2 linked regions of the Homo sapiens genome follow. The protein of the gene in region 1 purifies or fractionates together with the protein of each later gene. This does not show direct contact. Each region holds a gene or a part of one and is shown on either strand. Other genes may lie near its edges. The genes, in order: RPRD2 and SPTB.

Evidence for each region.
Region 2: the proteins of RPRD2 (region 1) and SPTB purify together in Homo sapiens (affinity purification with mass spectrometry; one large-scale study listed by BioGRID and IntAct). This does not show direct contact.

Annotation. Positions count from the first base shown.
Region 1 is NC_000001.11:150,464,852-150,468,668, reverse strand, and holds part of RPRD2 (regulation of nuclear pre-mRNA domain-containing protein 2), read right to left. Parts: intron 1-3,817.
Region 2 is NC_000014.9:64,792,591-64,796,407, forward strand, and holds part of SPTB (spectrin beta chain, erythrocytic), read right to left. Parts: intron 3,050-3,817; coding exon 2,747-3,049; intron 2,028-2,746; coding exon 1,877-2,027; intron 1,278-1,876; coding exon 407-1,277; intron 1-406.

The sequences.
Region 1 (3,817 bases):
TTGGGCTCAAGTGATTGTCCCACTTCAGCCTCCCAAAGTGCTGAGATTACAGGCGTGAGCCACCATGCCCAGCCTGATTTAATTCTTAGTAATCACTGTTCTCACAAAACCCAGAAGTCCTCAAACACTAGAATGTGATATATAATAATGTAATATGATTTTTAGAAGATATTTCAGCATATTTTTCAGATATTTTGGGATAACTTCTTCAAAAGAACATCTTTTTAAGATAGATATACTACTCAGATTTCTGGTAATAGGTAAAATTGTCTCTCACCACTAAATATTACTGTTCTCCAATCTTTTTTTTTTTTAATTATTTTTAAAAATTCTTAAAAACAATAGAGATAGGGGTTTTGCTATATTGACCAGGCTGGTCTCAAACTCCTGGCCTCAAGTGATCCTCCCATCGTGGCCTCCCAAAGTGTTAGGATTACAGGCATGAGCCACTGCGCCCAGCCAAAAGTTTGCTCTTTAATCATAACAAGTCATACTCTGCTCCTTTGCCCACTGAAGTTTCTCTTTTTTTGAGACAGAGTTTTGCTCGTCGCCCAGGCTGGCTCACTGCAACCTCTGCCTTCCGGGTTCAAGCGATTCTCCTACCTCAGCCTCCCAAGTAGTTGGGGTTACAGCTGTGAGCCACCACGCCCAGCTAATTTTTTTGTATTTTTTTTTGGAAAGACAGGTTTACCCTGTTGGCCAGGCTGGTCTTGAACTCCTGACCTCAGGTGATCCACCCGTCCCCAAAGTGCTGGAATTACAGGTGTGACCCACCACACCGGGCCTGAAGTCTCTCTTTTGTGTTATAAATCTGTCAATACCTAGGGCTGTGGATGACACAATCAGAACAAAGTTCTGGGATTTCATTAACAGTCTTCGAGGAAATACATCTATTTAACTTGCTAGATACAATCCTTTTAAAAGTCAAAGAGAATTCCACATTCCATAAGGAACCTAGTTCTGTTCAAATTTTGCCTCATCAGAAATTTCACATCGGCCAGGCACGGTGGTTCACACCTGTAATCCCAGCACTTTGGGAGGTCGAGGCAGGTGGATCACGTGAGGTCAGGAGTTCGAGACCAGCCTGGCCAACATGGCGAAACCCCGTGTCTACTAAAAATACAAAAATTAGCCGGGCATGGTGGTGTGAGCCTGTAATACCAGCTACTCGAGAGGCTGAGGCAAGAGAATCACTTGAACCCGAGAGGCAGAGGTTGCAGTGAGCCGAGATCACACCACTGCACTCCAGCCTGGGCAACAGAGCAAGTCCCCGTCTCAAAAACAAACAAACAAATAAAAATAAAAAGGGAGAAAGCATAAACATGTCAAACTCTCAAATTGTCCCTGATATTAGTAGTACAACATGTGCTGCAGTCATCATCAATTCTTTATTGCTGATGCCAATAGATAGGGGCTGTGGATTATTACTTAATACTATTTAGTTCTGTGTAACAAAATTCTTCTGCACCTCCAGACAAAGTTCACTATAATATGCTTGAATGATCCACTTACATAACAGTTTAGGAAACTGTTTTACACCACTCCTTTGATAGAGAGCAGGGTTTCTCAACCTCAGCACTACTGACACTTTGGGCTAGATAATTCTTTATTGTTGGGGCTGTCTCACACATTGTAGGATATTTAGGAGCATCCTCCTGGCCTCTACTCACTAGAGGCAGTAGCACCCCTACCATTACCCCAGTTGAGACAACTAAAAAGGTCTCCAAATATTGCCAAGTGTCCTCCCTGGAGGCCTTTGGTTGAGACTACTGATATAGAGTAAATCACTACACTGAATATATTGCCCTGGTATTTGTAATTCATTTCATAATTATACTACGGTACTTAAAAAGGATTTCATTGGTATCTGGAGCATAAGAGAGTAGAGAGTAGGAAAGATTTATGAAAAAAGGTTAGAAACAGGCAGTGTCATGCACAAAACATAATTAGTAAAGCTGAACAGAAAGGGTCAAATGAGAGAGATTATAGGTAGGTGAAAACAAAAATACTACATCTAAGACTCTAATAAAATAATAAATAAAATAATAAATAATGAAGCCTCTATAAAACATTAGGACAAAAAAAGATATATTCATGTCTCAGAAATTTTTTTTTTTTTTTTTTTGAGGCAGGGTCTCATCACTTAGGTTGGAGTACAGTGGGGTGACCACAGCGTACTGCAGCCTTGAACTCCTGGGCTCAAGTGATCCTCCTGCCTTAGCCCCCTGAGTAGCTGGAACTACAGGCATGCACCACTATGCCCAGCTAATTTTTTTTTTTTTTTTTTTTTTGAGACAGAGTCTTGCTCTTTTGCCCAGGCTGGAGTGTAGTGGGGCAATCTTGGCTCACTGCAACCTCCACCTCCTGGGTTCACACCATTCTCCTGCCTCAGCCTTCCAAGTAGCCAAGACTACAGGTGCCCGCCACCACGCCCGGCTAATTTTTTGTATTTTTAGTAGAGTCGGGGTTTCACTGTGTTAGCCAGGATGGTATCGATCTCCTGAACTCATGATCCGCCTGCCTCAGCCTCCCAAAGTGCTGGGATTACAGGCGTGAGCCACCGCGCCCGGCGCTAATTTTTAATTCCGTTGTAGAGACAGGGTTTCACTATGTTCTTGAAGCGTCATAAAAAAATTTTTTTTTTTTTTTTTTTTTTTGGACTGAGTCTTGCTCTGTCGTCCAGGCTGGAGTGCAGTAGCGTGATTCCGGCTTACTGCGATCTCAGCACACTACAGGTGTGTGTCACCACACCTGGCTAATTTTCATATTTTTAGTAGAGATGTTATTTCACCTGGTTGGCCAGGCTGGTCTTGAACTGCTGACCTTAGGTGATCTGCCCGCCTCAGCCTCCCAAAGTGCCGGGATTACAGGCGTGAGCAACTGCACCTGGCCATATTTTTTGATAATAAATGGACCCTTCCTACTGTCTTCAGCTTTGGTTAACACTGAAATTAATAAAACTCAACATATATAAACCTGTATTAAAAGCTGGGACTAATGCAGCCCCTAGGGTGTCATGGTGTAGGTGAAAGAATACTGAACTCCAGTCAAGAAATCTGGCCTTCAGTCTTGGCTCATACTGAATAGACAGATAGGTATGTGACCATAAGCAGATCTTTTCACCTTACTGAGCCTTAGTTTCCTTACCTGAAAAGTAAGGGATTAGACTAGATAATACTTAGTCTCTTTCAGCTTTCACATTTTATAATTCTTCAGATGTCAGCTCATAGATGATAAATATAAAAAAAATAGGAGGGGCGCAGTGGCTCACGCCTGTAATCCTAGCACTTTGGGAGGCTGAGGTGGGTGGACTGCCTGAGGTCAGGAGTTCGAGACCAGCCTGGCCAACATAGCAAAACTCCGTCTCTACTAAAAATACAAAAATTAGCTGGATGTGGTGGTGGGCACCTGTAATCCTAGCTACTTGGGAGGCTGAGGTTGCAGTGAGCTGAGATTGGGCCACTGCACTCCAGCCTGGGCGACAAGAGTGAAATTCTGTCTAAAATAAAAAAAAGGATAATGACCACCAGGCATGGTGGCTCATGCCTATAATCCCAGCACTTTGGGAGGCCAGGAGTTTGAGACCAGCCTGGCCAACATGGAGAAACCCCATCTCTACTAAAAATACAAAAATTAGCCAGACATGGTGGTGTGGGCCTGTAATCCCAGCTGCTAGGGAGGCTGAGGCAGAAGAATCACTTGAACCAGGAGGCAGAGGTTGTAGTGAGCCGAGAGCACTCCACTGCACACCAACTAGGCAACAGAGTGAGACTCCATCTCAAAAATTTTAAATAAATAAATAAATAAATAAATAAAA
Region 2 (3,817 bases), on another chromosome or scaffold:
CCCTCAGAGTCTCCTGGCTTAAGGACTGCCACAGAAAGCTAGAGCTGGCAGGGTCCTGGCCTCTCAACCTCCTTCTCCAGAGTAGCTCCATTTTTCCTCTGTGTGACCTGGGGGTTCCATACACAATTCATCTGAGCAAAGACTGCTATTGCTGAAAAGTAATTGAATAACTGGACTAGATAAATTCCCTTTGTTTGAGGAACACAAGGCCCCAAAGGGTGAAGTACCCCAGGCCACAGAGCCAGAATAGAACTTATGACTCCTAATGCCAGGACTTTGCAACAAAGGACATCCCAGGGCCTCTCAAAGAGACCTTTGCTGATCCAGAGACTATTACCAAACTAGGTGGGAGATGGTGCCCAGGCCTGGGTACAGGGACGTGAGGAAAAGATGAGTTAACTCTGACCTGTGCTGCACGACCTCCAGGTCCTCCAGGGTGTCTGGCATTTCCATCTCGGCCAGCCACTTCTCCTTCTCTCCCATCCACAGCTCACAGGCGTCTGTCTCCCCGAACACCGTGTACAGGTCCAGGGCTTCCTGCAGCCTCTGCTGACGCAGGTCCGCCTGGGCCACCACCTGTTGGTAGAGCTCCCGCAGGGCCTGCAGCCGATGGGTCACATCTGGGGAATCCCGAAACTCTTCGGGGAATCCCTGGGCCTGCTGCTCCAGGTGCTCCATCACCCCACGGCTCTCCTCCAGCTCCTCCAGGAAGTCCTTGTGCTTTTTCCCCAGGGCCCGCGTGGCCCCTTCGTCCTGCCCCACATCTTCACCAGAGAGCAGCCGGTGGGCGTCTTGCAGCCAAGCCTTCAGGTCATCCGCATCGCCCTGGAACTGGAAAAAGTTCTCAGCATCCTGGAGGTTCTTCTTGCAGAAGGCAGCCAGGTCCTTCAGCTGGTCCCACTGTGCCGACACCTCCTTTATGCGGGCCTCGATCTGCGGGTGCCCAAACTGCTTGCGCGCAACCATGCCATGAGCCTCCTGGAAGATCTGCTCCAGGTGAGCATCCAGCCCACGGAGCTCATCCTCAAAGGCCTTGTGCTTGCGCTGTAAGATGAGCACACTGGTCAGGTCTTTGCCATAGTCCAGGGAAGAATAGATCTGCTCCTTCTCCTTGATCCAGCTCTCAGCCTCATCCATCTCCCAGAAGAACTTCCAGAGTCGTTTGGACTGCTCCAGTTGGGCCTTCCGCCCAGCTGCCATGTTGCTCAGCTCCTCAAAGCACTGCTCCAAGTGGCTGATGCGGTCCTGGATGACCTGGGGGTCACAAGGCTGGTACCCTGGAAGAAATAGGGGGAAGGAGGACAAAGTGGGGGATGGGCTTCATTTATGGGCACGCTTCAGATAAGCTGCTAGGTTGGAACTACACAACCCTGAAGCTGCCATGTCACTGGGGCTTTGGGGTTGGATGCAGGGGGGTCCCAGTTGCTCAGAGGGTGGACAGATTCTTTATAATTATTTCCCACTGAACTTCAGGGTTAAGGAAGATAAAAAGTGGGGTTAGTTCTTAATAGAAATGTACAACATAAAATTATTTTTAAATTAATTAAAAAAATTTCAAGGTCATTCTTGAAAGATGCAGTGAGGTCTCTTATTTAAAACAAGAATCTGGAAACCTAAATTGTCTCAGCCATAACTTGAACTAGCAAGGAGAATGAAGGACAGAGGGTGCCTCCTTGGTGATTATAGGTTACCGAAGCAGTTGCCTGCTCTCTAGAGAATTTGGCTGGTCCCTCAAGCTTCTTTCTTGGACCATTACTTGATGAAAGTAACAGAACTTTAAAGTTGGTTCCAGGAGATTTATCCAAGTTGGGTTGTTAGGCCAGAGGTGAGGCTCTGGCATTGGAAGCCTCAAAAGGGGAGACAGACTTGGTCTCACCTTTCCCCTCGGTGAACTTCAGGGTGGCTGCGGTGATGGCCTTCACTTTGTCCCCTTGGATGGCGATGTCAGCTTCCATCAACTTGTGCTTCTGTAGCAGGTCTTCAACCTCCAACAAGTGCTTCCCAAACTCGGCAGACAAGAGGTGAGCCTGGCAAAGAGAACAGCAGAAAGGAAATGAGGAGAAGTGAAGAGACCTACACATTAGGAGAAGAGACCCCTGCAAAGGGCATGTCTCTAGTAATCTGAGCAAGGGTGAGCCAAATGCAGCCAGAAAAGGGCTGCTGCTGAGGATGGAAGAAGCTCCAGAGGGAGAGTGCCTACTGGGGGTGCCCATCAGCATCATCCATAGAACATCTTACAGATGCTCAAGCCCCACACTCATCTACTGCATCGGTCTCAGGGTTGGGGCCTGGCCATGTGTATTTTCACAAAGCTCCAGGGGCAGTCTGATGTGTGTCCTCAGCTGAGACCCACTGCGGCAGAGAGAGAGGAGAGGTTGCCCTCATGCTGGGAGGTCTGGATTCTAACCAGAGTCAAATTGTAATTACTAAGAGCTTGATTCTCCAGGTTCCTGATTAATGTCTGTCTCTTCAAGGCCCTGAAGGTTGGCACCGGTGCTGCCACAAACCCAAGATTTCTCGGTCACCAGGGTACCATGGACCTGGGCTGGTATCACCTGCTGGAGCAGAGTGGACCAAGAGGCAGAGAGGCAGGTGCAGCTAGACACTTTGCTGCCTCAGTTTCTCTATTTTGACTCAGAGATATGACTGGCTGGGAGGTGTCTAAGGAAGCCTATGCTAACTGCAGGGCCACTGAGACCCAAGGTGAGCACTGCAGGGCATGGCGGGGGCGGCCCCCAGGGCCCACCTTGATCTCATCCATCCAGTCGATGCTGTGCAGCATGTCCTGGAAGAGCTTCTGCAGTGCCAGGGTGGTCTCGAGCCTCTGGCGCCGGGACTGCAGCAGCTCCTGCAGGTAGCTCCATAGGCGCAGTATATTGTCCTTGCGGGCCGTGATGCGCTTCTGGTCATGGTAGTTCTCTTTCTCCAGCTCCTGAGCCAGGTCCTCCAGGGCTCTCACCCGCTCCTCGTAGGCAGCCGTGTCGGTCTCGATGGCCTCATGCTTCTTCTTGGCGGCCTCCACAGCTGCCAGGTCATACCCAAAGTTATCCTGCCCCACCGGGAGAAAAACAGGCAGCTCAGTCAGACACCCAGGGGCTCATCCCCAAACTCAGGGACAGGGCAGCTCCCTTCAGAACCAGTGCTAGATGGGAAAGCACATTCCCAAGAAGCAGCTAGTTCTGCCTTACTTTTGCAGCCTGTCTTATCAGACCCAAGTTCCAAAAATTAATGTCTCACAAGAGACTCTAAGAGAAGTTCATGATTTTACTCCCCGTGCCACCCGCGTGGGAGATGCAGCCTGCGTGTTACTAATGGAGCCCCTTGGCAGCCTGCTGGCACTCCCCACATGCCTCGAGTGGACCTGTTGGATTTGGGGCAGGAAGGGGCTGCTTCTCACTCGGAAACCCATGCACCAGCAAACAGATGGTTTATTCACATGCTATCTGGGGTGCGCATACACTCTCCAGTGCTCTCAGAATACTTGTTGCCCCCTTTCTGGACAGAATCTAATTTGATTCCAAGCTTTAAGTGAGAGGGAACAGATGCTCTGATGAAGAATCAGCCCTGGGGTCAATTCTTAGCTAGAATTATGTCACAGCACCAGAGACCAGAGTCCAAAAGGCATGCCTGACACAGACAAGGTGCAGTCTGTGATTTTACCATATCCCCCAAGAACCACAATTTAACATCAACTGAAACCCCAGCTGTAGTTGACACTACAGGCCCACATAAGACAACTTCAGCGGCCAGTTCTAGACTCCAAGGCTCTTTCCTAAAAATGAGATTTAATAAATCCTGGAGAGCTCCTCCCCAGATG